Linked DNA regions of Homo sapiens. The protein of the gene in region 1 purifies or fractionates together with the protein of each later gene. This does not show direct contact. Each region holds a gene or a part of one and is shown on either strand. Other genes may lie near its edges. The genes, in order: KCNJ2, UBE4A, EIF3M, AKAP5, HK1 and STK38.

Evidence for each region.
Region 2: the proteins of KCNJ2 (region 1) and UBE4A purify together in Homo sapiens (affinity purification with mass spectrometry, with the first as the bait; one large-scale study listed by BioGRID). This does not show direct contact.
Region 3: the proteins of KCNJ2 (region 1) and EIF3M purify together in Homo sapiens (affinity purification with mass spectrometry, with the first as the bait; one large-scale study listed by BioGRID). This does not show direct contact.
Region 4: the proteins of KCNJ2 (region 1) and AKAP5 purify together in Homo sapiens (pull-down; one study listed by IntAct). This does not show direct contact.
Region 5: the proteins of KCNJ2 (region 1) and HK1 purify together in Homo sapiens (affinity purification with mass spectrometry, with the first as the bait; one large-scale study listed by BioGRID). This does not show direct contact.
Region 6: the proteins of KCNJ2 (region 1) and STK38 purify together in Homo sapiens (affinity purification with western blotting; one study listed by BioGRID). This does not show direct contact.

Annotation. Positions count from the first base shown.
Region 1 is NC_000017.11:70,171,596-70,176,879, reverse strand, and holds part of KCNJ2 (inward rectifier potassium channel 2), read right to left. Parts: intron 2,057-5,284; 5' UTR 1,841-2,056; coding exon 557-1,840; 3' UTR 1-556.
Region 2 is NC_000011.10:118,361,870-118,367,153, reverse strand, and holds part of UBE4A (ubiquitin conjugation factor E4 A), read right to left. Parts: intron 2,115-5,284; 5' UTR 2,074-2,114; coding exon 1,953-2,073; intron 1-1,952.
Region 3 is NC_000011.10:32,602,180-32,606,930, reverse strand, and holds the end of EIF3M (eukaryotic translation initiation factor 3 subunit M), read right to left. Parts: intron 4,653-4,751; coding exon 4,532-4,652; 3' UTR 4,121-4,531; coding exon of another isoform or gene 3,911-4,120; 3' UTR 667-3,910; downstream 1-666. Other genes in the region: CCDC73 (coiled-coil domain-containing protein 73), read left to right, coding at 3,911-4,120. UniProt on the Homo sapiens protein: Component of the eukaryotic translation initiation factor 3 (eIF-3) complex, which is required for several steps in the initiation of protein synthesis.
Region 4 is NC_000014.9:64,466,715-64,471,750, forward strand, and holds part of AKAP5 (A-kinase anchor protein 5), read left to right. Parts: intron 1-1,417; 5' UTR 1,418-1,680; coding exon 1,681-2,964; 3' UTR 2,965-5,036. UniProt on the Homo sapiens protein: Multivalent scaffold protein that anchors the cAMP-dependent protein kinase/PKA to cytoskeletal and/or organelle-associated proteins, targeting the signal carried by cAMP to specific intracellular effectors.
Region 5 is NC_000010.11:69,391,847-69,395,346, forward strand, and holds part of HK1 (hexokinase-1), read left to right. Parts: intron 1-278; coding exon 279-462; intron 463-3,103; coding exon 3,104-3,259; intron 3,260-3,500. UniProt on the Homo sapiens protein: Catalyzes the phosphorylation of various hexoses, such as D-glucose, D-glucosamine, D-fructose, D-mannose and 2-deoxy-D-glucose, to hexose 6-phosphate (D-glucose 6-phosphate, D-glucosamine 6-phosphate, D-fructose 6-phosphate, D-mannose 6-phosphate and 2-deoxy-D-glucose 6-phosphate, respectively).
Region 6 is NC_000006.12:36,519,157-36,524,440, reverse strand, and holds part of STK38 (serine/threonine-protein kinase 38), read left to right. Parts: coding exon 1-100; intron 101-2,623; coding exon 2,624-2,707; intron 2,708-5,284. UniProt on the Homo sapiens protein: Serine/threonine-protein kinase that acts as a negative regulator of MAP3K1/2 signaling. Converts MAP3K2 from its phosphorylated form to its non-phosphorylated form and inhibits autophosphorylation of MAP3K2.

The DNA.
Region 1 (5,284 bases):
ATTACTGGCCTCAAAAAATCAGGCTCTTGTTTTGGCAGTTAATAGCCAAATACTTGCCACTTTGAAGCGCATCATGAGCTTTCAATAAAATTCAACACTGACTTTAAAATTACACAAAAGGAAAACTACACTGCAACAAAAATACACATTTGTGTTCATGTAGTTAGCAGCTTTTCAAAAATTAAGGCAGAGTCTTGCCTTTGTTATGCCATTAAAAACATCCTTGTTCCCTAAAGAGAAGCATTCTGGATAAATCAAATACCCAACCAAGGCTTGCCTGCAAGTTCAAGTTTTGGAAAAACACAAAACAAAACATAAAAACCCATAACTTATTCTACAACATCTATGTGCCATCGGGTCACATGGAGACATGGTTAGTGCTTTATGCTAATCATGGAGCTTACAGTCTTTCTTTGAAACCATTGTGCTTGCCTCAGTCCCTTGTGGCCGCTTGCTTGACCCATCTTGACCAGTACCGTCATCTGTATAACTGTTTTGGGCCTCTGACCAACAGACCGTGTTGTAAAGTAACTATTCCAGAGAAGGAATCAGTCAGTCATATCTCCGACTCTCGCCGTAAGGGCCTGGGCTCTAGAGGTACACTTGCCTGGTTGTGAAGGTCTATGTCAGGGGGCGTGTCCGTACTAGTGCTTTCTGGAACTCCATTTTCACTGTCGTCTTCCTCTTTGCTTGTGAGGGCAACTTCATTTTCATAGCAAAATGAATTTGCATTTGAGAGGATATATTTCTTTTCTGCTAAGTCTCTGGCACTACAAAGGGGAGTGTTGGGGACTTCGTAAGTTTTGTGGAACCTGGAATAGTCCACTTTGTAGTAGTGCTTCTCTTCAAAGAGCACAGGCTCATAGCGGTGGCCCCACAGGATTTCATTTGCTAGATAAGAGCTACGGCACTGTGTCGTCATGGCAGTGGCTTCCACCATGCCTTCCAGTATGACCACGATTTCAAAGTCTGCGTTGTCAATGTCCTGTTTACTCAAATCATATAAAGGACTGTCTTCATCTATTTCATGGACTATAGTGATTGGGGACACCAGAAATATACGATCGATTCCACTGTCAAACCCAACATTGATGTCTATTTGATCCAGAGGGATATACTCCCCTTCAGAAGTAATTCTGGATTTGAGGAGCTGTGCTCGAACATGAGCTTCCACCAAGTGGCTTTTCCGAAGATTGCCCACTCGCCACATCAAACACAGCTTGCCGTCTCTCATGGCAATCACGGCATTGTGACTGAAGACAAGAGTCTCGTTTCTCTTCTTTGGCTTTGCCATCTTGGCCATGACTGCGCCAATGATGAAAGCATCGATGATGCAGCCCACGATTGACTGGAACACCACCATGAAAACAGCAATTGGGCATTCATCCGTGACACATCTGAAACCATAGCCTATGGTTGTCTGGGTCTCAATGGAGAAGAGGAAGGCAGCCGTGAAGCTGTTGACCTCGGACACACAAGCTTTGCCCTCTTTGGATGCATCCAGGTCCCCATGGAGCAGAGCTATCAACCAAAACACACAGCCAAAAAACAGCCATGACAGGACGAAAGCCAGGCAGAAGATAACCAGCATCCACCGCCAGCGAATGTCCACACACGTGGTGAAGATGTCTGCGAGGTACCGTTGCCCCTTCTCACCCACATTGATGAACTGAACATTACAGTGGCCATCTTTCTTCACAAAGCGGCTCCTGCACTGTTGTCGGGTGTGGACTTTACTCTTCCCGTTCCCAAAGCCATTTGCAACTGCCATGGTGGCCAACTTCATACCGTCTTCTTCTGAAGAGACGATGCTGTAGCGGTTGGTTCGCACACTGCCCATCGCTTCTGCTGGGGACTCCAGTGCTTCTGCTTTGGAAAACAGTCTGAGTTTTTGCAAAACGCTTTGGAGAAACAGTTTTGAATGTTCGGTGAAGACACACACACCAAAAAAATGAGGAGAGATGGGTGTCTCTGGGAGCCTTGTGGTTCTACCAAGGTCTGTCTACTGACATGCAGAGTTACTTTAATGACTCAGCTGACATCCAGAGAACATGTCCTGCAAGAAAAGAGAGACTGTGCATTACAAAATAAGCCACTCTTAAAGAATTCTACTGTCTAAGACAATATATCCTAACAAAAACACATAATCAGGTAAAGATAAGTATAATTTACATTAAATTATAAGGTTTTAAATTTCTTTGTATCCTAAGCATGCTTTGTAAAACTTTTATTTAAAAGCATAAAGTCGTTAAACATAGAAGAGTTGTCTGTGACAGTTGTTCAACCAAAATGTCAGGTCAGGTCCCCTTTCCCTTCTTTTTGGCCAGGGATCTAGAATATTCTATTGTTCAGGTCTACCTCTCCCTTCTCTTATTCTCTTCTTCTGCCTGCCCCACTTGCTAGGATCCCTGTTAAGCAGATGAAAGACTGTCTGATTCCAAGGTTTGTCGTAAAATTTTTGGAAAAAGGACATGTTTAGAAAACTTCACGTGGACGCAGCATTGATATCCACTGAGTTGCATGTGCATTACGGGAGAATATTAGAGTCCCTGATGGCAAGGTTGAAATCGGAAGACAGACTATTTTGTTTAAATGATATAACTGAGCAGACCGGATAGGCTGACGAAATGCTAGAGGAAGAAAGTCAGATTCCCACCTACAAATAGAATAGTGAAGTGGATTTTGGAGTAGGCTTGACTGAGTGTGTATCCTGAAAATAGAGGGAACTAGTGGACAAAACCTCCTACGATGGTGAATACTGCCCCTATTGCTTATAATAATCTGAAATGGATCCCAGTTTCTGGATACTGTTTGGGCTTGCTTCATCACTTCTCACACTTTAAGCAACCACTATGCAGAAATGCCTGCTAAGTCTCTATTAGTACAGGTAATTCTGGCTTGAAGACTCTGAAGATGCAGGTTTGCTCTGGGGGATAGAGAGCAATTCTGTTGCCTAGCAATAAGAGCCCTGAAATTCTCCTGAGATGGGGCTGTCATGTGTAATGACAGGCTAGGAAGTAAGCACCGTTGTGCCAAAGGACCAGGTCTTTAGCGGATTGAGATAAGGCAGGAACTCATTTCATGTGAGTCCAGTGCTGTGTTCTCTCAGACAGAGACAACTGTGTAAGGACAGATCATAAATGCCAGTCCGCTTACTTTCACTTCCAGCGCTGTTATTTGGTATAGGTTCCTATGGAGAAGGCACTCACCTTTACTTAATATGTGCAAATAGTAGTTCTCAGTTTTCTCCTATTGCCTCAGTCTTCCCTAGCTAAGAACTATCTATGTACTTCAACTTTCCATCTTCACTCCTAAGAAACTATTTCCCTTGACTAACTAACAAAAAGCTAAGAGAAAGTCTAAGGTGTTTTCTTTACCAAATGTGTAATAACAAAACTAATAAGAGTTAGAACTGAAAAATAAAGCCCATCTTCAACTTTTCATACAACCAAATCCTTCTGCTATATTAAAGGGGGGCAATGAATAACTCATGAAAAGAGTCAGAAATTTGTTGATGCCTGATAATGAAGACTCCACTTTTTCCTTCTCCTCTAAATCCATTAAGATTAAACAGTTAATAGAACCGATATCAGCCAAGCCAGCCGCAAACAAATAAAGCAATCCATTTATGTTGTTTTTGTGCATTCCCTTAAGAAGAGGCAAGGTGCATTGCCTTTGAAAATGCCTTGTTACTGTCTTTTGACTTCTTCTTTATCCAAGTTATTATGCAAGAATGTGCCCCAACACATTTTTCCTGAGATTAGTCATCTTTGAAAATTGCAATGTGTGTTACATTTTGGCAGCTTTTGACACCTAAATGATGCTCAGTTTGAAAGTGCCTTTGAATTACTTTATAAAAAGAAGTTACTGTGCTTTCCTAACCTTCCACCTGCTTCAATGTTTTGTCTGCTTCCCTGTGAAGTTTGCACTTGGACCAAAGAAACAAGAATCCTGCCCCTCGAAGTTCTAGATCCTGTACATGGACAGCATTTTTTAAGCAATTATTTCATCTTAGTTTTCTCACATTACTAAACAGACAGAGACAGCAACAACACCAAACGCAGGTATACGTTTCAAAAAAAGGAGAAGAACTTCATTCAATGAATGCTTTGTATTTTTGAGTTCTGATTGACTTCAGAACTTTGTATTATAAGCTGACACCAAGAAATTCCCTTTTCATGATTCAAAACAATCCTTCCATGTGAGTTACCATTAGGGGCCATGAGTAGACAGTCTCAAATTTCTTCTGACTTATTTCTGTACTCCTTCCAGATTAAAACATAACAACCATATGAAATCTAAAGACTGAATTATGACTTTCCAAAAATCTTGACCCCAGGACATTTGTTTGAATTCCACAAATCACACAATACCAGCTTCCTATGAATAGCTTTCCACATTTAGAATCTTGAAAGTAGCCTGTATTGAGAGACTATTATTGTCTTATTTCCATTGCTAATAACAGAATTTGTTCCACATGTGGAGCATCATTTAGAAATTTTACCATTTCTTCCTGGAAAGAGAAAAAGAGGAGTTTTGGGCTTTTTTTTTTTTTTTTTTTTTTTTTGGCAAAAAGAAAACTTTTGCCACTTTAAATAGATATGCCCCCAAACAGATTTATGTGTGTATGCAGGTGCACACACATATATGTATGCAGACTTTTTGTGGAGCTGATTACATAGCTAAAGTCTAGAACCTGTCAAGGTTTGATGGGGTAACGGTCTTAATATTTCATGGTAAAAATTGCTTTTACTGTTAACCTGCCCACATGCCTGAGCGACTTTAAGCAAGCAGAAAACTTCCTTGCCCGGTCCTCTCACTAGCAATTACCAATTCGTGAGCAGCTGAGAAAAGCTATCATTAAAAAAACAGGGCTTACATGCAACTTTATTTCAAGCATATATTCAAAATAATGTTTGAGATGCAATCAATGAGGAGTAGATGAGAACACTAAGTGATACAAATCCAGAGAATTGAAATTTGATTTGATGAACAATGTGTAAATCTCCCTTCCAGCCAAAATATTTAAGGGTCTAGATGTAAATTTCATGGACACAAATAATCATTTTTATCCAGGCCATAACCCATGATGTAGAAAGTATTTTTGGGAAATTGAGAGGTTACATGTGGTGCTGTTCATGTTAAGACTATTTATAGGCTGAGCCAAAATTAAGCATAAGCAATGGAAAAAAATAGTTCAGCGTTTTAAACTTAGGTAGATGTTAAAGGAGAAAGAGCTATGGATAAATGTAAGGTCAAGGAGATCACATGGTACAAATGGGGG
Region 2 (5,284 bases), on another chromosome or scaffold:
ATCTCGGCTCACCGCAACCTCTACCTCCCAGGTTCAAGTGATTCTCCTGCCTCAGCCAAGTAGCTGGGACTACAGGCGCCCACCACCACGCCCGGCTAATTTTTGTATTTTTAGTAGAGATGGGGTTTCACCATGTTGGCCAGGCTGGTCTCAAACTCCTGACCTCAGGTGATCCGCCCACCTTGGCCTCCCAGAGTGCTGGGATTATAGGCGCCTGTCATCATGCCCGACTAATTTTTGTGTTTTTAGTAGAGACGGGGTTTTGTCATGTTGGCCAGGCTGGTCTCGAACTCCTGACCTCCGGTGATCTGCCCACCTAGGCCTCCCAAGGAGCTGGGATTACAGGCGCGAGCCACTGCGCCCAGCCCCATCATTCATGTTGAATGACTACATAAAAGTAGTGTTATTCACTATATGCCACATATGAGTCTATATGTACTTTTCTCTATTGACAGAATGGCTAGTCTGAAAGTCCAGGTAAAACTCTCAAAGTAAGAGTTGTTTCAGTGTGGTGAGTATAAGCTCAACATAGGAAGCCAAAGGTTTTGGCAAAGTACTAATTGCTAGTGGAAACAGGTTGGACCTGGTGGCATGATAAACTCAGTGTAAACAAACTAGGATGATGAGGTGCCAAAATAGTAACAGAAGGGCATGTGCCTGCAATGCTCCCAACTCTAGCCAGATTTATGTCTGTTTATAGCCAGAAGGACAAGCGTTCTGTTGCTCAGCTGCTATACTGTTGAGTTTTTCTCTGACCTCCAATGGTGACAGAAGCTAAGAATCTGTTTAGCAAAATTTCCCTCAACCACATACTCATAAATCATACTTTCTCATTCCTTATTTTTCCTATTTTTCACTCTGCTTTTTCCCCTACAATCTTCTAAACCAGAGTTTCCCATTCTGGCCCCGTATCATAGAAATCTGGGAGAGATTTCAGAGACTGAAAATACCATGTTAAAAAAAATCAACATTGATTTTGTTTTTCCCTTGCATCAATCACTTATCTGTCTTGCCTTTACCTCTTTTTTCTTCAGCCCTTTCTAACTGAAAGGCCAAAAGTCAGCTATGCACCTGAGTGTTTTTTTTTTTTTTAAATAAACAAAATAAAGGGAAAATGCAAACACTTCTCCTTCTCTCAAAAGAAAAACACTATTATTCTTTTCGGAGAGAGGAGAAGGGGAGCAATTTCTGGTTTGAAAGATTGTGAATATCTTCAGAAGACTAACATATTTGAGAAAAATCCTAATTCTTCTAGTGTATATGTCTCCTTATAGGAGGAAGCTGGACTTGATCTTAAATTCGGTGCCTGAAAGAAAACCATTTTTTCTGATTACTGAGATGTTATTCTGATGTTTTTCATAGTAAGGCTAAGGATCAGATTTTTTAAAAAAGTCTGTCCTAACAGGACTAAGCTACAAATGATGCCACTCATCGGAACAGAAGAAGCACTTTGCTTGGGAGGGCCTTTGAAGTGCTGAGCTTAAGAACAAGTCTCATTTGCCTACAGGTCAAAAAGCTTTTATAGTTCTTCCTTTTACATCTGCTTTCTATAGCTGCACATGACTTGCTTTCTACACCTACACTTACCACCTCTGTGTCCCATGTTAAAAACATTTATTTAAATAGCTTTTACTAGGTGATTTTTTTTTTCTTTTAAAGAAAACAGCCTGACAGCTTTGGGATCACGACTGGCATCTGTTACTATGGAACCACCTGTTACCTGGTCTCTTTTTGTACAGTGGAGAGGACAGCGGAGGGGAGGGACTCACAACAAAACCAACAATAAAAGCAAACAAACAAAAAACCCCAATTTCTGCTCTCAACAAACAAACAAAAACCAACTTTTGTTCCAAACTTAAATTCCAATTGCAATTAAGGACTCAAAGAATACTTAATTTGGGAAGACCCCATTCTAGGTCATCTTATTTGCTGCTATTGGCTCCTCCACTTACCAGATTGTTGCTTCAGCTGCTCTTTTTGGATTGCCGCAAACTGTTTGGCATCAGCCAGGGAGCCAAAAAGAGCAGCAAAGGGGTTACTTGAGATGTTGTTGTTATTCTCCTGGTCTGTCATTTCACTTTAAGGTATCCTCCATCCAGACCTAGTGGGAGAGGCTGTTCAAAGGACAGGTATTAGACACAAGAGGGCAGATGACACAATAGCTGTAATATACCTGTGGTTGTTTCTTTTCCCATTTCTCAAATACAATACATTTTAAAATACTTTGGGTTAAGATTTTCCAATTCCTGTCCCCAAACTCAAGACATTTTTGGCAAAATGGTTACAAACCTACCAGCTGGACTCGGTGGCTTGATTTGTGGATAGCTGAAACTAAAAAGGCTAAAACGTTCAGCTGGAATGCATTAATCTGTTGATATACTTTTATTTGCAATACCTTTAAGAAAACAGGTTAAGTAGAAAGAATTATTGAAGTCAAAGAGAGAACTCACCTACTAATTGTAATAACAATGTGGCACTGAAAAATAATAAGACAAGAATTATGGATTTCCCAAGAATTAAGCTGGCAGTCTAGTTCTCATTCACTGGGGTGAGGACAAGGGACTTCTATGACTTAGGGCTGGGGATGGATATTTCTCAGCTACATATAAATTAAGTAAAAGCCCATATCTTAGATTTGGACTCTGGCAAATCAGGACTGGAAGCAGTTCAGCTGTATGTTGTGGGTTTTTAACATAGATTAAGCAATCTATTTATTTCTAGGCTTAAAAATACTGATATTTCTTCCACTAAAAATTAAATGGTCTTTGCTTCATGCTATATCTAACCTTCACTGTTTACCTGATTTCTTAAAATAATACTGAAGAAACACGAATTCCAACGGTCAGGTCTACTGTGTAATATGAAATATAGATACCTCAAAGGTGTTTAGTAGAGCTGGCTGAGCCTGCATTCACACTCTTCTGATTACATTTCCTCATTCAAGACCAAGTGAACTCAGTGGCACAACAGAATAAACAGGGCTCCCTGAAAGGCTTTCTCCCCTTTCTGAAATTTTAAGGCCATGACATAGAAATATTAAATACAACACTGAAAAGGGTGGGAAGAGACAAAGGGTATGAATGTTTTGTTCATAAGGATCTTGAACTGCTATAAGGACAGAGACCTTAGAAATAGCGGGAGTAGGGGTATAAAGGAAGAAAAAAAGAACATTTGGTCTACCTTTGGTTTATTGAGGCAAGACTCCTCACAGGATCATATCAACAAAAGCTAATGTGGGCCAGGTGCAGTGGCTCATGCCTGCAATCCCAGCACCCTGGGAGGCTGAGGCAGGTGGATCACCTGAGGTCAGGAGTTCAAGACCAGCCTGGCCAACATGGTGAAACCCCATCTCTACTAAAACACGAAAATTAGCCAGGCATGGCGGCAGGTGCCTGTAATCCCAGCTACTTGGGAGGCAGGAGGCTGAGGCAGGAGAATTGCTTGGACTCGGGAGGCAGAGGTTGCAGAGAGCTGAGATTGTGCCACTGCACTTCAACCTGGGTGACAGAGCGAGACTTCGTCTCAAAAAAAAAAAAAAAAAAAAAAAGCTAATGTGGTCGAAAAAGTTACCCTTATTTACCAGAGAAAGAGATTATTTATAACATTTCTTGACAATTCTGAGGCATCTTCAGCACTTGCTTCATGCTCCTCTGCCATTTTTTCCACACAAGAGCTAACGGCTAATTAGCTGTAATGACTTAGGCAGTCTAGTCTCCTCTCAGTGCAGCTCAAAGCTTTACTGCTTCAAGGAATTGAACTGTTATTTGGATTTTTAGTAGAGACGGGGTATCACCATGTTGGCCAGGCTGGTCTCGAACTCCTGACCTCAAGTGATCCTCCCACCGCGGCCTCCCAAAGTGCTGGAATTATAGGCATGAGTCACTGCGCCTGGCCTTCTGTATTTTATTTTTTGCTATGTATATTTCAGTAAGCTTAATAATGCAAAAAAAGGGAAAGATACCATATTTAGTATTGAAATTAATGAGAGGGATTTTCCCCATGTAATTACCGCACAAGTTTAATTATTACCTGTAGTTAATGTAAAAACACCAAGAATTGTCTTATTGTTAGCTGACCACCATTCTACTTCCATCCTAAAATACCACAAATTCCAGAGGAATGCAAAAAGTATATTGAGCTCTTGTTATTTCTCTCTCTAAAACATCACATTCATTTTTTTCCTTTGGGTATCCACTCCACTCAATCCAGAAGAGGCTGACCAGTTCAGAAGGGGTTGACCTCACCCACTAGCCCCAGGAATGAACATACAAGTCTGGCCAGGCTAAAAAGAATACAGCATTTTCCAGCCAAAGCAACTGATCCAGGAGTGGGCACAAGACACTATGGAGGCCTAACAGAGTCAATGAATACCAGCTTCAGGACTTCAGCTGAATCTACGGAAAAGTGAGTTTTCTCCTGATTGAGTTGATAAGCCAGTAAGATAGAGTTGCCATCTTTACACCATTTAGAAAAGGCCTAGCCTAAAACCAAGCCAACATACACTAGAAAACAGAATTGAGAGATGGAAAGATAAGTCTGGACTTTTCAGTTATAAAAACCAATAAAATTTCCCTAAATGCCTAAACCAGTTTGATGTTTTTTAAAACACAACTGAAAAGTGTCCAGATTATTACAAAGGACATGCATCACCTGCAACACGTAAGCAGAAAGGAAGCTGAAAGCCAGGAATATAGGACATATGACAGAGAAGCTCTTAAGACTATCAAGAAGGCCGGGCACAGTGGTTCATGCTTATGATCCCAGCACTTTGAGAGGCCAAGGCGGGCAGATCATGAGGTCAGGAGTTCAAGACCAGCCTGACCAACATGGAGAAACCCCATCTCTACTTAAAACACACAAAAAATTAGCCAGGCATGGTGGCGTGCACCTGGAATCTCAGCTACTCAGGAGGCTGAGGCAGGAGAATTGCTTGAACCTGGGAGGCGGAGGTTGCAGTGAGACAAGATCGTTGCCACTGCACTCCAGCCTGGGCAACAGAGGGAAACTGTCTCAAACAAACAAACAAACAAAAAGACTATCAAGAGAAACAAAAAGAATTTATCACCATAAACTGCATTACTTCCTTCTTTCTCAATACTATACTGTTGCACTGTATAAAGAAACTAGCTTTCTACATTTTACCTCTATTTTTACTAGGATTTTAAACTTTCTGCATTGTATTTCTAAGCAGATCTTCTACATTGCTAGGCTGTAAGCTCTTCTGATTACATGTTCATATCTGATTATTCTTTCTTCTGTGTCTGGCATTATACATCACAATCAC
Region 3 (4,751 bases), on another chromosome or scaffold:
GTGGCAGGCACCTGTAGTCCCAGCTACTCGGGAGGCTGAAGTTGCAGTGAGCCGATTGTGCCACTGCACTCCAGCCTGGGTGACAGAGTGAGACAGTGTCTCAAAAAAAAAAAAAAAAAAAAAAGAATTTATTTTTATAGAATTTTTAACTTTTTCATTGGCAAGGTAATTTTTTTTACAGATGAAACAGTGACATAAATGTGAAATAACTTTCCAGGGTCATTAAGACACAATATGTGGTGGACCTAGGCTAGATATTGTGGCTCTTAGTCAAATGCTATATTATACTTTCTTAACTTTCACAATAGAAAAAATGTTTCTTCTGAAAGATTGATGCATATAAAACAAACTCAATTCACTGGCTGAATAGACATTTTCTAAGTGCTTATTACTATGTGCCAAGTACTATGGTAAGCTTCATTGTCCCAGCTTAAAGCTTGATTGCAAATTATGTAATGTGGGGCAAATTCAAAAGTAGATCTCCTTATAAATTTAATAGACCACAGTCACACCCATTCCTTTGCATATTGTAAAGGCTGTTTTGGCATGGCACTGAGAATTGAGCAGTTGTAAGAGGCCATTTGGCCCACAAAGCTGAAAATATTTACTCTGGCACTTTTTGGAAAAAGTTTATCAACCTCTGTTATAAATGAATTTTATGAAGACTTATAGCCAAAAAAATAGTTTTATTTTTCAACATATTTTATGTACAGTCCACATCAATTCTGTTAAATTCAGGGAAGGTATTAAGTACCAATCCACTTTCTCTCTATGGGTCCAAAGTAACTTGAAAAGATGGTATGTTTTTCATTCTTGTTTTCAGCATTAGATTGTTAGCCTACTGCAATCTTGATTATATCCAGGAATGAGGATGGAAAACCAGAGTAAGCAAAGCAAGCCACTTACTTTTTTTTTTATATATCCAATGAATTAGATTCATTTAAGTTTAATTTTAAAATATAATCACAGGCAGAAATAAAAGGACTAGTACCAAGCTAGGGGAAATTTTTAGGCCAAAAATTAGATTTTGTAAGTCAGGCTGAAAGAGAAACAGGTGATAAATTTCTAAAAAGGATAGGAGACGAAAGAACGAAGATACAAGGCAATATATCTGAAAACAGCTAGAACTAAAATTACTGCGGTAGGCTGCAGAACCCTCAGGTAAGTTAAACAGGACAAGTTTTGTTAAGCGCAAACATTAGCTAATCTACACTGTATCTTGTTTCTCTAAAGCCAATCCCTGCTCCTACCCCTCTCAGCAAGTGGGTAGTTAAGGGGAAAGAAACTAAAGCAAGTAAACGTGTCCTTCCTTTCCATCATCAAGATAAAAAAGTCAAAGAATCAGGATTTTGGGAAACTGTTAATTTGTACTTGGATGCCAAATACACCAAAATGAACCCAGCACTTTGATGGCAAAATAGGAAATATTTATGTAGGTTTTTATCCATTACTAGTTATTCTTTCCAGTAATAGCATCTGGGAACTAAAAGAAGCTAATGAGTAAACTGAAGCCCAGAAAAATTAAATGACTTGCCTAGGTTCTCTTAGCAGTCCTGTGCAGACACTTTTGGAAGAACAAAGCCAATCAGATAAATATGAACAAAGAATCACCCCAAAGATCAGAGGTAAAACTCTCTGAGGGGACCAGTGGCTGACTATAGGATTTCAGGGAGGGAGCCAAACAGAGCAATCCAAAAGGAACACTCCTTAGGGAGCCGTGAACTTACCATTCTAAACATTTAAGTTCATTAAAAAAAAAAAAAAAAAAAAGTATTACTAGGTCGGGCAGGGTGGCTCATGCCTGTAATCCCAACACTTTGGGAGGCCGAGGCAGGTGGATCATGAGGTCAGGCGTTCGAGACCAGCCTGGACAACATAGTGAAACCCTGTCTCTACTAAAAATACAAAAAATTAGCTGGGCATCGTGGTGGGTGCCTGTAATCCCAGCTACTCGGGAGGCTGAGGCAGAAGAATCGCTTGAACCTGGGAGGTGGAGGTTGCAGTGAGCTGAGATGGCGCCACTGCACTCCAGCCTGGGCGACAGTGCAAGACTCTGTCTCAAAAATAAAATAAAATAAACTTAGTACTACATAATCTAACACTGAAAATGACAATGTTACTAACATGCCACTTTTACTGGTCAAATTGAAAAAGATTTTAATGTAAGGCAGTACCCAAAGATCTTCACAAAGATTTATGAACAAATGATAATCACTGCAGCCTAGTTAACAGTGACCATTTTCTTACAATTTAAATGTCCAGAAATAATTTGCAGAACACAGAATATGATGGAGCTATCCTCTTAACAGACTTAAGAACAGGAGGAAATGCTAAAAATGTTTAACATAGCATATAAACCAATAAAAATATGACCCCAGTATTTAAAAAGTGTATACAGAAAAGAGACCAGAAGATTTACACAAACTCTTTAATGGTGGTTGGGATCTTGGGTGATTTTAATGTAATTCTTATCCTGTTTCATATTTCTAAAATACACGTGTATATCCCTTTCAACTAAAACACAACACAGTATGGCTCACTCCTGTAATCCTAGAACTTTGGGAGACCGAGATGGTCAGATCACTTGAGCCCAAGAGTTAAGAGAGACCAGCCTGGGCAACATGGCAAAAAATACAAAAATTACCTGGGTGTGGTGGCACATGCCTGTAGTCCAAGGTACTCAGGAGGTGAAGGTGGGAGGATCACCTGAATCCAGGGAGGTCAAGGCTGCAATGAGCTGTGATTGTGCCACTGCACTCCAGCCTAGGTGACAGGGTGAGACCCTATCTTAAAAGAAAGCCCACCATAATTGTTATTTTGAAAACAATTCAGTATTCCTTTTGTTTTATCTATTATTTATTTTTGAGAGAGGGTCTCACTCTGTTGTCCAGGCTGGAGTGCAATGGCATGATCTTGGCTCATTGCAACCTTCACCTCCTGGGCTCAAATGATCCTTGCACCTCAGCCCTCCGAGGAGCTGGGACTACAGTTGCATGCCACCATGCCCAGCTAATTTTTGGTAGAGATGGGGTTTTGCCATGTTGCTCAGGCTAGTTTTCGACTCCTGAGCTCATGCAATCCACTCGCCTCAGTTTCCCAAAGTGCTGGGATTACAGGTATGAGTCACAGTGCCTGGCCCAGTATTCCTTTTGAAGAGAAAATTTTATCTGGGAATCTCTCAAAAACATCAAAGATTGTTTTGCATGAAATTAACTCGAATTAATTTTTGGTAGGGATAAACTGGAAACAAACATTCAGTAGTAGGAGATATATCAAACATCCATAAAAGGGAGTATTTTGCAGCCATAGACAATTGTTTTTAATGACCTAAGAAACTGCTCACAGAGGAAAATACATAAAATTCTATAGAATGATCAAATAGGCTAAAAATAGAAAAAAACGCTAGCAGCAAATAATACCAAAATGTCAACAAGCCTCTCTGGATAAGGGATTACTAATGATTTTTAGTTTCTTTCTACTTTACTCTATTTTCTAAATTTCCAGTAAGTATTTTAACATCAGAAAAGAACCTTAAAATGAAAAAGTTATTTAACACACTATTTTTAAAATTACCCAATACAGTGTCTTGAAAACATGCCAACTTCCAAATATCTCACTGCCCTTCCTGTTTCTTCAACAATGGTGTTCTGAAGCATGGGAGGAAACATGAAGTAGTAAAAGGCAGTTTTTGTACACTTTACTTCAGTTATATATTAGAGATTTTGAAGATCTACTACATAAGCCTACACATTCACATTGTATACTTTTCTGGTGCCAGAACTACTAAGGTAGTGGAAATCAGCCAAGAGATGGTGGTTTTACCACATACTCATAACTGCAGAGGCTTTACAGACTCTTTAAAATCTTTTGTATAATAATTTCGAAGGTAAAATTAGTTTATCTTTCCCAGGTGAAAACAAAGCCTCTGATATCAACTCCACTACAAAGCCATTTGCAGGCAATCAAGACGACTAAAAATACTTCTGGTGATGATGACTGGCAGAGCCTCATTACGAATCAACTAAATAAAAGTGAAAATTTACTAAGTTTAGAAAATGACAACCAGCCAAAGAAAAGAAAAGCAGAAGAGACGTTGGAAAAAAACAACAGATTAAAATAATGTAGATAAGTGCTTTCAGTAGTGAAATTATGTAACTGAAATTCTGGTATAGTTTTTACTAGAATAAAATGACTGTTGTATTTAAAGCTCTACAGTTTGTCTTTGCTTTTCCAAGTTTTTCTAATGTGAAGAAATTGTATTACTCTACTTCTGTCTTCTCTCTGTATATTATCCTTTCTTTAAAGTGCTCATTGCTTCTTCAATATCCTTTTTTAAAGAACAGAATTTATGTATTGTATGACAGACATTGTGACCCCTTGTAATTTATTACTTCATATCCTCTGGAGTTTGTGATTTTAGTATAAATTTGAGACAATAACTGTCCAGACTAGGCAAATTTTTTTAGTTTATAATGTTTTACTATGATTTAGGGCTTTTTTTTCAAAGAACAAAAATTATAAGCATAAAAACTCAGGTATCAGAAAGACTCAAAAGGCTGTTTTTCACTTTGTTCAGATTTTGTTTCCAGGCATTAAGTGTGTCATACAGTTGTTGCCACTGCTGTTTTCCAAATGTCCGATGTGTGCTATGACTAAAAATTGAAAAATTAAACACAGTGTTAGTCAACCTTTTAGCCTCTGGTATTCTTTTATAATACTACAGATTTGAATCCAGTTAAAAGCAAGATTAA
Region 4 (5,036 bases), on another chromosome or scaffold:
GTTCATAAAATTATGGGTTACCCAAATGAAACTTCAGTGAAGGATTTACATAAAAACAATATAAAGAATGAGTCCCTTTGCTTATTTTAGGGCATCCACCCACTAAAATTCATAGGATCTTTGTTGGATAATCACCTCCCATTTCCATTCTTTGGTGCCATCATACCATTCTAAGGATTAAATTTTCAATACACCTTTATATTATCTAAGTTTGCCAATTGCATAGTTTGCCAACTTATTTTTGGCTTTTAAATTAGTTCCTGAACCAAAAAAATAAAATATAAAGAATTTCAAAAGCTTGGTTTTCAAATGACAAGAACTCAGTCTACTCGTGGTTCAATTATGAGTTGATAAGTGCCTTATGGTTAAATGACCATTAATCAATTTTTTAATTTTTTTACTAATGAAACACTGCAGATTAGTATCCCCAAACAATTCATTTTCTGACGAAACTCTTAAAGCCCAGTTTCAGAACATAAGCTTTAAGCAACAAGCAATCTTGTGTTAATCTGAGCTCTGTTACAGCTCTGCCGTAATCTCAGCCAAATTGCTTCATCTGTACGTGGTGATACCACCATCTTTGTAATATTGTGGTGAGGATTAGAGATGTATGTAAAAGTGCATGCACTGCCTAATACCCAAGAATTGCTCAATAAATGTCAGCTATTACTACTCTTACTGACTTCCAACTATGTGCAGATTATGGTGGAAACATGTGATACAGCAGATACAGTACTTAAATGAAAATGTCAAAATTGTACAACTAATTTAAGAGTGGGAAATGACAGTAATGCTAAATTTTCCTAAGAATATGTATGAAAAATAGCACTTCCTTGATGGAACATACATTTTTAGAACAGAAACCTTATGTTATAATGGTAAAACTAGAGAGTCAAAGTCTCTAGTTCTAACTCTGGCTATGACCTTATCTAGTTGCATGGCTTTTGACAAGACAACTGCTCCCCTCTGGAGTTCAGTTTTGTCATCTGGCTGGATTTGAGTAATCTCAAATAATCTCTAAAGTCCTTTGCAGCTTTAAAATTATCTATTGAGTGTGATAAAGATTACATCAGCTTGCTTTTCATCCTGCACTTCATTTTTGGTTCTTGTTGTTTGCTTAACTTGCACTTTAGAGTCATAAGCAATTCACACAGACAACACAACTAAAGAACTGATAATATCAGACTTGCAGGGTAATCCAAAATGAAGTTTCAACAAGGAGGATAAAACAAAATAGAATCACACTGAACTCTTTAATAGGGCCAAAGTAAACCCCAATGTTTATTCTCCAGTCATTTCATTAAGTTATTATATGGAAAATATGCCTGGTAGAATCTTATACATTCACTGAAATAGTCTCCACAGAAAATAATAGGCTCATAGTGAAATAAAATACCACTTTCTTTTCTCTCATCAGGTTGATCTTTAAATAAAGCAAAAATTTATCCAAAGAAGGGCTTTCATCAAGAAATTAAAGAGAGAAATTACAAGCCATAGAGAAACTGGGCATTTCTATACTAGAGAAACCACCTAAAACAACTGTATGGAGTAAGATGAAAGGTATGAATATGCCTGGAAGAAATTTTACCTAGTGTGACATTTTTGCTCATCTTTTTGTCACAAAAGGCTGCTAAGGAAGAGAGAATACAGTTTTCTAGAGAATAAGAGTGCAGTGTAAAAATGGAAACCACAATTTCAGAAATTCATGTAGAAAACAAGGATGAGAAGAGATCAGCAGAAGGTAGTCCTGGGGCTGAAAGGCAGAAGGAAAAGGCATCCATGCTTTGCTTCAAGAGAAGAAAGAAAGCAGCCAAAGCACTGAAGCCCAAAGCTGGCTCTGAAGCTGCTGATGTGGCAAGGAAGTGTCCACAAGAAGCAGGAGCTTCTGATCAGCCAGAGCCCACACGGGGGGCCTGGGCCTCACTCAAACGTCTTGTAACACGCAGGAAAAGGTCAGAGTCTTCAAAGCAGCAAAAGCCATTGGAGGGTGAAATGCAACCTGCAATAAATGCTGAGGATGCTGATCTTTCTAAGAAAAAGGCAAAATCTAGACTTAAGATTCCCTGCATAAAATTCCCAAGAGGGCCAAAAAGGAGTAATCATTCCAAAATTATAGAAGACTCAGACTGCAGCATCAAAGTCCAGGAAGAAGCTGAAATTTTGGATATACAAACACAGACCCCATTGAATGATCAGGCAACAAAGGCTAAGTCAACCCAGGATCTAAGTGAAGGCATCTCACGGAAAGATGGTGATGAGGTCTGTGAATCAAATGTGAGCAATAGCACAACTTCTGGAGAGAAAGTGATTTCAGTAGAACTTGGATTAGATAATGGGCATTCTGCTATTCAAACGGGAACTCTAATCCTTGAAGAAATTGAAACGATCAAGGAAAAACAAGATGTTCAACCCCAGCAAGCAAGCCCACTTGAAACTTCAGAAACAGACCATCAGCAGCCAGTACTTTCTGATGTTCCTCCTTTACCTGCAATTCCAGATCAACAAATTGTGGAAGAAGCCAGTAACAGTACCCTAGAAAGTGCACCAAATGGAAAAGACTATGAAAGTACAGAGATTGTAGCTGAAGAAACTAAGCCAAAAGATACTGAATTGAGCCAAGAATCAGATTTTAAAGAAAATGGGATCACTGAAGAGAAATCCAAATCAGAAGAAAGCAAAAGAATGGAGCCAATTGCTATTATTATTACAGACACTGAAATCAGTGAATTTGATGTTACAAAATCTAAAAATGTCCCTAAGCAATTCTTAATTTCAGCTGAAAATGAGCAAGTAGGGGTTTTTGCTAATGATAATGGTTTTGAGGATAGAACTTCAGAACAATATGAAACACTCTTAATTGAAACAGCCTCTTCTCTAGTCAAGAATGCTATTCAGTTGTCAATAGAACAGCTGGTTAATGAAATGGCCTCTGATGATAATAAAATAAACAATCTTCTACAGTGACTTACTCTCCAGAGTCACGGCAGAAAAAACAAGCTTAATGAAGAATTCTTTTATACATTTGTGGCATTTCTTACTCAGTAACAAATGAGAGATTTATCATCTCTAGAACTTAAAAGGTACAATTCCAGCGCAGAAGTGCTAAAGATTAAGTCAAGTTTATAAAACTCTACCACTGAAATGCAGTCACTTCTGGATTGGAGGAAGTCAGCACAGATTGCAGTGTAAAATGACATAACATACAGGGAGTTGCTAAAATGGCATATGGAGATTGGAGTGCTTTGGGGGAGGAAGGTGTATTTATTGAGCACTTATGGTATGCCATAAGCTTTTTAATGACCTCTGATATAACAAAGTCTGGTTTCCTTTTGATAATTCAGCTCTGTGTATAGGCTAACATCACATTAAGTTTTTAAAAACTTATTTTTTACAGTGCACATATATGTTTAAAATGGTGAATAAGGTGAGCTACTTTTGTGAATGTGATTTGTAATTGTTACATTCCTAAGCAGCAGGCTTAACTCAAAAAATACATTGCATTTTCCCAATTTCAGCAGATAGTGTGCAGAATATGCATATTGATATTAAACGTGAGTGGTTTCCTAGTCTTAAGTCTCTTATAAGCGCTATTTGGCCAGGGGCAGTGGCTCACGCCTATAATCCCAGCACTTTGGGAGGCCAAGGCGGGTGGATCAGCTAAGGTCAGGAGTTCGAGACCAGCCTGGCCAATGTGGTGAAACCCCATCTCTACTGAAAATACAAAAATTAGCTGGGCGTGGTGGTGCACGCCTGTAATCCCAGCTACTTGGGAGGCTGAGGCAGGAGAATTGCTTGAACCCGAGAGGTGGAGGTTGCAGGGAGCCAAGATTGCACCACTGCACTCCAGTCTGGGCAACAGAGCGAGACTCCTTCTCAAAAAAAAAAAAAAAAAAAAAGAGAACCATTCACAAATCCTTCAATCAGGCAAATTGTTACTAAGTGCAAAAGTGTAGAAACAGGGAGAGTGGGTTTTTCCCCCGCTTTTCTTTCTGCCTCAACAGATCTGTATATATCCATTTCTGCATGGATTTATCTGTGAAAAGTTAAAAAATGAAACAGCAAAAACAAAACAAGGGGAATATTATTCTTCATCCAGGAGAAGGGAAAATTCCCAAGTAAATTATCACAGATAATATAGGATTCATCTTGCAGAATTACTTCTTTAAGAGCCATATTCATCAACTTCTCTCCAAAGAGGGGAGAGTAGATTCAAAGCCAGCCTGGTAGTAATGGTCCTGGAAAATCCTAATAATCTAGTGCAAATATTTATTCTCGGCCAAAAATGAGCCATGAATGTGGGTGAATAGAAAAGTGAAAAGTTATTGCTAAAGCACATTATAATTTAAATGTCAGTATTCCTTCATGTCTGTGTGTTGAGACCAGTAAAAAGCATTTTACATGAATATTGAAAGTTAACTTTTTCATCACTATTTTCTTTTCTTTTTTTTTTTTTTTTGAGATGGAGTCTCACTCTGTCGCCCAGGCTGGAGTGCAGTGGCGCGATCTTGGCTCACTGCAAGCTCCACCTCCTGGGTTCACACCATTCTTCTGCCTCAGCCTCCCAAGTAGCTGGGACTACAGGCGCCCACTACAACGCTCGGCTAATTTTTTGTATTTTTAGTAGAGATGGGGTTTCACCGTGTTAGCCAGGATGGTCTTGATCTCCTGACCTCATGATCCTCCCGCCTCGGCCTCCTAAAGTGCTGGGATTACAGGCATGAGCCACCGCACCCGGCCTTCATCACTATTTTCAATCCAGATATACTTTACAAAAATGAGAAGGGCTTATTTGCATTTTTATTTACATATTGAAAGGGAAGCATCTGATCTCATCAATGATTGCCATATTTTTTGAAAAAGTAATCCTATTTCAATCTTTCCTTGTGTGAAATGGCCATAATACCAGAGTGCACTTCCCTACCTCACAGGTTAGGATTCAAAGTGTGTATTCCCCCATTGTGTAAATTGAGTGATTGTGTTACTACTTGAAACAGATGAAGTAATAAAGATGAAGTATGAGATGTAAGGTATTTGTT
Region 5 (3,500 bases), on another chromosome or scaffold:
CTTCTATTAAAATAAACATAACCCTGCCTGGACGGGTGAACACATTGGCTCTTGGTTGAAAGTCAGCTAAGCAGGTGCCCTCTGGGTGATGTGGCTCAGACTCTCCATTTACATTTCAAATTTTTCCATTTCAAAATTGGGAAAGAAAAACTATTACTTTGTTCATCACAAAAAACGTGCCCCCTGCCTGTGGAACCTCAGGCCCCAGACCCCAGGCCCAGTTGCAAGACCCCCAAATGCAAGGCCACCGCTCCTCATTGCCCCCTCGTGTGTTCCAGGGACCGGCAGCAATGCCTGCTACATGGAGGAGATGAAGAACGTGGAGATGGTGGAGGGGGACCAGGGGCAGATGTGCATCAACATGGAGTGGGGGGCCTTTGGGGACAACGGGTGTCTGGATGATATCAGGACACACTACGACAGACTGGTGGACGAATATTCCCTAAATGCTGGGAAACAAAGGTAACCCCGCCTGGTGGAGAGGACACTCACAGTCAGGGTGGGGGCAGCACTTGGCTGCATTCTGCCACTTGCAGTGGAAGAAGTTTCTAGGAGGAGAGGTCTGAACAGAGGTTTCAAGACTGGACCCCCTGGCTCACTCCTGACCTTTGTCTTTTGGACAGCAGAGAACCAGGGAGGACAGACCCCCAACATGGTACAAGATGGCCCAGGGTTGATGCCTGTCTAGGGGCTGCCTGTGACTGTTTTTTAGCCTGGAGGATTCTGGCCTTCCGGTCCCCTTGCTGTGTTCCTTTCCCATCAGAATAACAAGGGGGTGGGGTGAGGGTGGCTGGGCGGCAGGTTGGTGTGAAGCAGAGGCCCTGTCGCAATCGTCCTTTCCTCCGTGAGCCTCCTGCACCACCTAGTGGCCTTGTGGAGCTTTGCAGCTCAGGTCTCAGGTACCATGTCTGAAATGGCAGTGTCTGCCCTTTGTCTCAAGCCCCCAGGAATCAGGCCATCCTCTGCCACGGCCAGGATGAGTTGGTCCAAGTTGTCTCCCTAGGAGCAGAAAGAAGGGCTGGAGCAGCACCCAGCATGAGTCACTCCCTAGCCCCCTCAAGGTTTTTGCCTTTTCTAAATACCACCCATGCTGTTATTTACTTAGTGCTTTTCTTCGAATCAGCTTACAGTTTTTTGTTTTTCTTTTTGTTTGAGGTGGAGTTTTGCTCTTGTTGCCCAGGCTGGAGTGCAATGGCGTGATCTCGGCTCACCACAACCTCCACCTCCCGGGTTCAAGCAGTTCTCCTGCCTCAGCCTCCCCAGTAGCTGGGATTACAGGCATACACAACCATGCCCAGCTAATTTTGTATTTTTAGTAGAGACGGGGTTTCTCCATGTTGGTCAGGCTGGTCTTGAACTCCCGACCTCAGGTGATCCGCCTGTCTAGGTCTCCTAAAGTGCTGGGATTACAGGTGTGAGCCACCGCAACCAGCCCTTATAGTCTTTTTCTTTTCTTTTCTTTTCTTTTTTTTTTGAGACAGAGTCTCACCCTGTTGTCCAGGCTAGAGTGCAGTGGTGCGAGCTCAGCTCACTGCCACCTCCTGGGTTCAAGTGATTCTCCTGCCTCAGCCTCCCAGGTAGCTGGGATTACAGGTGCACGGCACCACGCCCAGCTAGTTTTTGTATTTTTGGTAGAGACCAGGTTTCACCATGTTGGTCAGACTGGTCTCGAACTCCTGACCTCAGGTGATTGGCCCGCCTCAGCCTCCCAAAGTGCTGGGATTATAGGCGTGAGCCACCGTGCCCAGTGGCCTTTAAGGTCTTTACTGACATTTAATGAAGGAGGAAAAAGAGGAAGAACCAATAGTACCATAAAGAGATGGTAACTAAAAAATGAGTATAGTGAAGAACCGTGCTATTCAAGTCTAGCTGATGCTGTCGCCTACCAAATGACCTGAACTAAGACCCCCTTTGGGCTGAGTGCAGTCTATCATCAAAGTAATCCCAGCACTTTGGGAGGCCAAGGTGGGAGGATTGCTTGAGCTCAGGAGGTTGAGACCACCCTGGGCAACATAGGGTTGAGACCCTGTCTCTACTAAAAATTAATAACAATAATAACAACAATAATAGTAAGACCCCCTTGGTTAAAAAGCGGGGGGATCAGCAAGTGTTGGAAGGGGTTAAGGACATGTCAGCACCAAACTGGGGTGGTCTTTGTGGTGGAATGAGAAGGACTGGGTGGGACTTCGTAGTGGTGGCCCACCCCTCTGTGATTCCATTCTGTTTCATGTTCTTCCATGGACCACATGAAATAGGAGGAATCCTGGAGTTCCAAATTCCAGGGGACTCTTCTCAGCTTTGGGACACTGGGCTTGGGCATGTGCCATGGAAATGAATCAATCCTTTGTTATTTCTTGAGATCCTTGAGCATGGAGAGGGCAGGAAATTTGAAGTCCCAAGAACAGGTTGACCTCCAGTGTGTTGTGGTCACTGAATTCTCCCTCCTGTGTGGCCTCATCACTCTGCTGTGGGCTTGACCAGTACTCTGGGTATTTGCAAAACCTTTAGAAAAATCTAGAAACTTTCCTTTTTTTTGTCTTCTTGTTCCTTTAAGACTTAGCCCAGTCATTTGCTTATTCTGCAGATAGTTTTTGGGCACTTTCCTGAGGGCCCAGTGCTATGCTATGCTGTGCTGTGCCCTGGGGACTCAGAGCTGAAAAAGACACACATGCCCTGTCCTCTTGGGGCTGTCACTACAGCAGTGGTGGTGGGAGGCAGTGAGCTCAGGTGTGTTGTGAAGGAGGAGAATGGTGAGGTGTGTGGGAACCTGAAACAGGCAGGTAGAACCCAGGATCAGGAGGAGGACAGGCTCTCGGGGAAGTGACCTTGGGGCTGAGAGCTATCAGGCAGCTGAGGAGGGAGACCAGTCTAGCAGGTAGACATGAATGCTGGTGGTTTTGTTTCTGATGTGAGAGAGTGGAGGACTCCCTGGTCCTTCCTGGTCCTCCCACTCTGCCTCTGCGGCAGAGCACAGGGCTGGGCACATGGCTGTTGATGATGCGCTTGAGGGGCAGTAGGAGACGCGGAGTGACCGTGAGACCGAGGGGTGACAGTTCTCCTGGCCACTTCCCATAGACACCCCAGGCCCCTCCTCCTGTCTCAGGTATGAGAAGATGATCAGTGGTATGTACCTGGGTGAAATCGTCCGCAACATCTTAATCGACTTCACCAAGAAGGGATTCCTCTTCCGAGGGCAGATCTCTGAGACGCTGAAGACCCGGGGCATCTTTGAGACCAAGTTTCTCTCTCAGATCGAGAGGTGAGTGGGCAGTGTCTTCCCTGCCAGCGCCCACCCTTCAGAGGTCGCCTGGCTGGTGGATTGTGATGGGGGTGGTAGGGACCCTAGGGGACATTTTGGCCATTTTTGAGGATTTTTTTTCCTCTGGAATAGCAGACCCTGGGCATTTGCATAGTGAAATCTTATAATTTTATTATAAATTACTTTTCTTGGCCTGGTGTGGTGGCTCATGCCTGTAATCCCAGCACTTTGGGAGGCCGAG
Region 6 (5,284 bases), on another chromosome or scaffold:
TGCTCGGAAGGAAACAGAGTTTCTTCGTTTGAAGAGAACAAGACTTGGATTGGAAGATTTTGAGTCCTTAAAAGTAATAGGCAGAGGAGCATTTGGTGAGGTAAAAATCACAGCTACTTGTCAAGTAGAAAAATATTGCAAAACTTCAAAGCTTCTAACATACCATTAAGTCATGATTGTTGATATAACAAATATATGGAATTAAATGAGTCAGGCATGCCAGCCCCACATCCTAATTGCTTTGTCTGTCTGCTTTCTCTTTTTCTTCTCTCCGCAGTCCCAGATCTCTGTTCTCTGTTTTGCCAGAGATGGTGTTGGTGTTTAAATATTGACTTAGGGGGAGAGTTGAAAGGTAGAAGGAAATCAACATTTATTATTTACAGGCTGCTTTTTTCCCATAATCAGGACAGTAACCCATTTTATAGATGGTGAAATTAAGACTCTAAAGGTATATATAATGTCTCTTGTTATCACACAGCCATTGAGTACTGGGACCAAAAGTTGGGCTCTACTTCCTGAACTCAAAGAGCTTGCTTTTCCCAGTACTGCACTGCCTCTCGAGAAGGAAACTAATAGTGTATCTCCACCCTTTATTTCTCCCCACCAGATTGATACAGCTCTAAAAAGATGACCCTAGGAGGGAGGATTTACAGAAAGGAGTTATATAGGTAGTGGTGGAGAGTTGAAAGCATTTGCGACTTTGTCCCCGCAATTCTTGGAAATGATCCTGCTTGGGCACAAGAGCAATCTGTTGGGGAGAGCTTGAAAGAGCCCATGCAAGGTCATTCCTGTTAATGAAAAATGCCCAAACTGGATGACCTACTGACGCAATAATTGCAAGTATAAAAGGAGCAGTATATTATTAAAACCTGGTACCCCGGGGCCAGGCACGGTGGCTCACTCCTGTAATCTCAGCACTTTGGGAGGCCAAGGCGGGCGGATCACAAGGTCAGGAGTTCGAGACCAGCCTGACAACATGGTGAAACCTTGTCTCTACTAAAAATAGAAAAATTAGCCGGGTGTGGTGGCACGTGCCTGTAATCCCAGCTACTCAGGAGGCTGAGGCAGGAGAATTGCTTGAACCCAGGAGGCAGAGGTTGCAGTGAGCCGAGATTGCACCATTGCACTCCAGCCTGGGTGACAGAGCAAGACTCCATCTCAAAAAAAAAAAAAAACAAAAAACCTGGTACCCCGGGGAAATGTGAATAGTATTCAGAGGCACAGGTGATAGATTGATCCCTCAGTGTTCAGAATTCCTATTGGCTTCTTGAAAGAGGGAAAAGTATAGTACCACCTCTGAAAGAGCTTTCTGTTTGGCAAGGAAGGGTTGTGGTACTCAATTAGGAAAAACATGAAGAAAGGTTCAGGGAGAAGAAAACCTACTTATTTTGGGAGAAGAGGGGAGGACATGCAGGAACTTGCAGTGAAATTTTTCTTTTGGTTGTAAATTTTCTTCATAAAATTATCTGTTTTCTTTAAGAACATTGGAAAACATAAAAGAGAAGGAAAACTACATAAAACACAATTTCCCTAATTACACATTTTGAATTTTCTTCTTCTTCTTTTTTTTTTTTTTTTTTTTTTTGAGACAGAGTCTTGCTCTGTTGCCCAGGCTGGAGTGCAATGGCTTGATCTTGGCTCACTGCAACCTCCGCCTCTCGGGTTCAAGTGATTCTACTGCCTTAGCCTCCCGAATAACTGGGATTACAGGCACCTGCCACCACACCCAGCTAATTTTCGTATTTTTAGTAGACGGGGTTTCACCAGGTTGGCCAGGCTGGTCTCGAACTCCTGGACCTCAGGTGATCCACCTGCTTCGGCCTTCCAAAGTGCTGAGATTATAGGTGTGAGCTACCGCGCCTGGCCTGAATTTTTTGTTTTTCTTTCCAGACGTTTTTCCTAAGCATGAAGTTTTACTTTGTTATTATTATTATGATTAAGTGACAAGGTTTCACTGTGTTGCCCAGGCTGGAGTGCAGTGGCTGTTTACAGGCACGATCTCACTACTGATTGGCATGGGAGTTTTGACCTGCTCCATTTCTGAACTGGGCCTGTTTGCCCTTCCTTAGGCAACCTGGTGGGCCCCCCCTCTGCCACCCTGCTCCTGGGAGGTCACCATATTATGCTGAACTTAGTTCAGACACCTGATCAGCATAATGCACCATAGCTCATAACTCCTGAGCTCAAGCGATCCTCCTACCTCAACCTCCCAAATAGCTGGGACTACAGGTATACACCACCATGCACAGCTACTTTTGTTTTAATTAAACATCATTGTAATCATTTACTTAGATTTTCTGAGCTGACTGGATGACATGTGTCAGAGGTGTAACGAGTCCTTAAATTTGAAATTGAAGGTTTTAAATTAGATTGGCTTGTTCAACTAAGGAACCAAAGCTGTTCAGATGTAGAGGTATTTGAGGATGTTTCCAGCATCGACTTTACTGTGTGTAATGTATTCATTTTGGAACACTGAAAAGCATTTTCTTCTGCTTTGTTATTACTAGTTGCTCATGTTAAAATTGTAATACTTTTTCAGTTAATTATTGCATCCTATAACACATGAAAGCATTAGGTTGGTAGTACGAGTTTTTGACTTGGCATTTCTTTTATAACTTTTTAGGTACGGCTTGTTCAGAAGAAAGATACGGGACATGTGTATGCAATGAAAATACTCCGTAAAGCAGATATGCTTGAAAAAGAGCAGGTAAAGCACAGTTGTAGCAGTGCTTTTAGCTTATTAATTTTTGTCTCCTAAAACTTTTCTTTTTGTTTAATTGAAATATATATTTTTATTACAGTTTTCTTTAGCTCTGTCATGTATGACTATATATATAATACTACCTTTTTCCCCCTACAAAGAAGCAGTTCATATTTAAAATCACAAATAATGCCTGTAGGTTATATGCAATCTTTTAAAAATTGAAAATCTGTTCCAAAAGCAGCTCTTACTTGTGTCTTCCAATTGATCACAAGATGTCCTTATTGTGAGAGCCTTTTTTTTTTGAGGTCGTACGTGGTGTGGTAGTGTGTTTCTTACCAAATGCTGAGAAATAGAAATTGTATATATATCTCATAACTAAGGACTAGGAATTAGAATTTGGAATTTATAATCTAAAATGTGTCTTTATATGCTTCATTCTGTTTACCTAAACCAAAGTTGAGTCTTCTAGGTAGCTCATCGGTACCTGAAAAAGACCAGCCTTCTAATTTCTGAATGAATTTGAAAAATACAATGCAAATGACAGAACAATGCAAATTCTCCTTTAATGATAAAGGATACTTTCTAAAACCAAAACCTGGTTTGCAAATCAATTTATAAAGTGCCTTATGCAAAATAAATAAGGTTTTAAATATTGGAAAGTATATTTTAAAAAGCAAGAATAGACTTTCTATAAATCTAGTTTAATGTAGCTGGTTGCTTAAGAAAAGATTGCAGTGGGTGATGACCGCAAATGTCCTGTAAAAGATTTGATGTTATAGGAACATGGAGACCCTGTGACAAGGAGAACTCCTAATTTAGGGCCAAAGAGGGGGGATGGAGATTGGCCCCACATCCAATCCTTTCTACCTCTTGAGAGGAGATATAATCACTGGTCTTCCCTGTCTTCATTTAAATGCCACCCCAAAATTTGGAATTTTTATTTTCTCTCAAATTTTCATGTGTTACCGAGAAGCTTTAGACTCCCAGGAATTTCAGTTGGGAGTATCAAATACCTGGGCGGTAAGTCTTGAGACACTATAGTTTATGCTAACGCCAACCTTTTTCAAAATTCATAGTAGGCCGGCCTACTTACATACTATCTACAAATTAGTGTGTGGTATGGGTGTGTAGGCACTGAAAAAGTTTCAGTTAATCTTGAGAAGGAAAATATAAAGCTTCTGCATTAATTAGTATGTTTGCATCTCATGAGTAAGTTTTGTTTTTGCAAGGTATGTTTCCTACAGTTTTAACCAAGGCTTAAGACCTCTTTTTATTAAATATTAACTGTCAGAGTAATACTGCAAAACAAAGTACATATGATTTTCAGTTAGTAATTTTATGTATACCAGGTGCCCCGCATGGTTTCTAACAGAGGATGATCCAGACATAATGTGTAAAAAGCCTTTTCGCAAATATTGTGCCTTCAAAATCACTTTCTAAAACTTTCCTAAATGAAAGTAAAGAAACTATTAGAATTAACATTTTAAATGATGCATTAACTTATGGATTAAATGGTACATTAACTTAAATTGTTTAGCTCACCTTAGCTGAGAACTCAACTCCTCAACTTAACAGATCTCATTATGAGCCAGTTAAAGTCTCTGGCCACAGACTCTACCTGGCTTAGCCATCTTGAAGAAGCATGCATTGGTTTTGTGCTAGATAAAAGATGGAAGTAGACCAGTGCAAATTCATCACCATTTTGGGGTAGGGCTGACAAAGTAGAGGTACAGAGGCAAAATTGTTTTTTTGTTTGCTTTTACTAAATAAACTGGGTAGGAATTAAAGCTACCCACTGAGAGTTCAGGTTATTTTTCTGCTCCACGTGGTGGAAATTTTTGCTACCTGGAAAAATTTAAAGGGTAAGACATGACATCTAACTAGCTTCTGATGTTTCTCTTCCAGTGCAAAAGGAAAACCTTCAGTTGTGATGCCAGTATACAGTTATTGATGGGACAAAAAACTGGCTTTTATTTCTGCTTTCTTAGGGCACAGGATAGCAACTAGCACCCCCCACCTTATTAAATATTTATGGAATAGGGGAAAGAGAACCTTTTTGTATAAATTGCACCTCAGACTCTTCCCTCCCTTAATCTATATTCAGCCAACTCCACTTTCAAACCATGAGGTTTCTTGCTACTGTTTCAGCCTCAAGAGAAAGGCAAGGTGTGCTCATGGTAGCTTTCCCCTTGACAAACAGGAAATGTTATGGGCACCATTGTGTCCTCCAGGGTGAGTGACAAGTGGTAATTGTAGTGCCTCTCCTTTTCTCTGGCTCCCTGCAGTAGGTAGGGAGCTTAATGGGAGCCAGGGGAGACAGGCAGATGAAGGCTGCCTTCTACTGTATTAATGTCTTGTAGTGACTGGGTCCTAGCCATGGCTGTGGGGCAGCAAGCAATGTTACTGTTTCCCAAAAGCTTTGCTTCTGTATTAAGGTCAAGTAAAGGCAGATGCTTTACTTGGTTTCATTGTGTTTCATAGCACTGTTTCTTTTCACCCTTATTGTCCATTTTTTCCCACCCCAATACCATAAGTACAGATGTAAAGATGTAGGTTTTCTGTACAGTTGCAGCTTTTAAA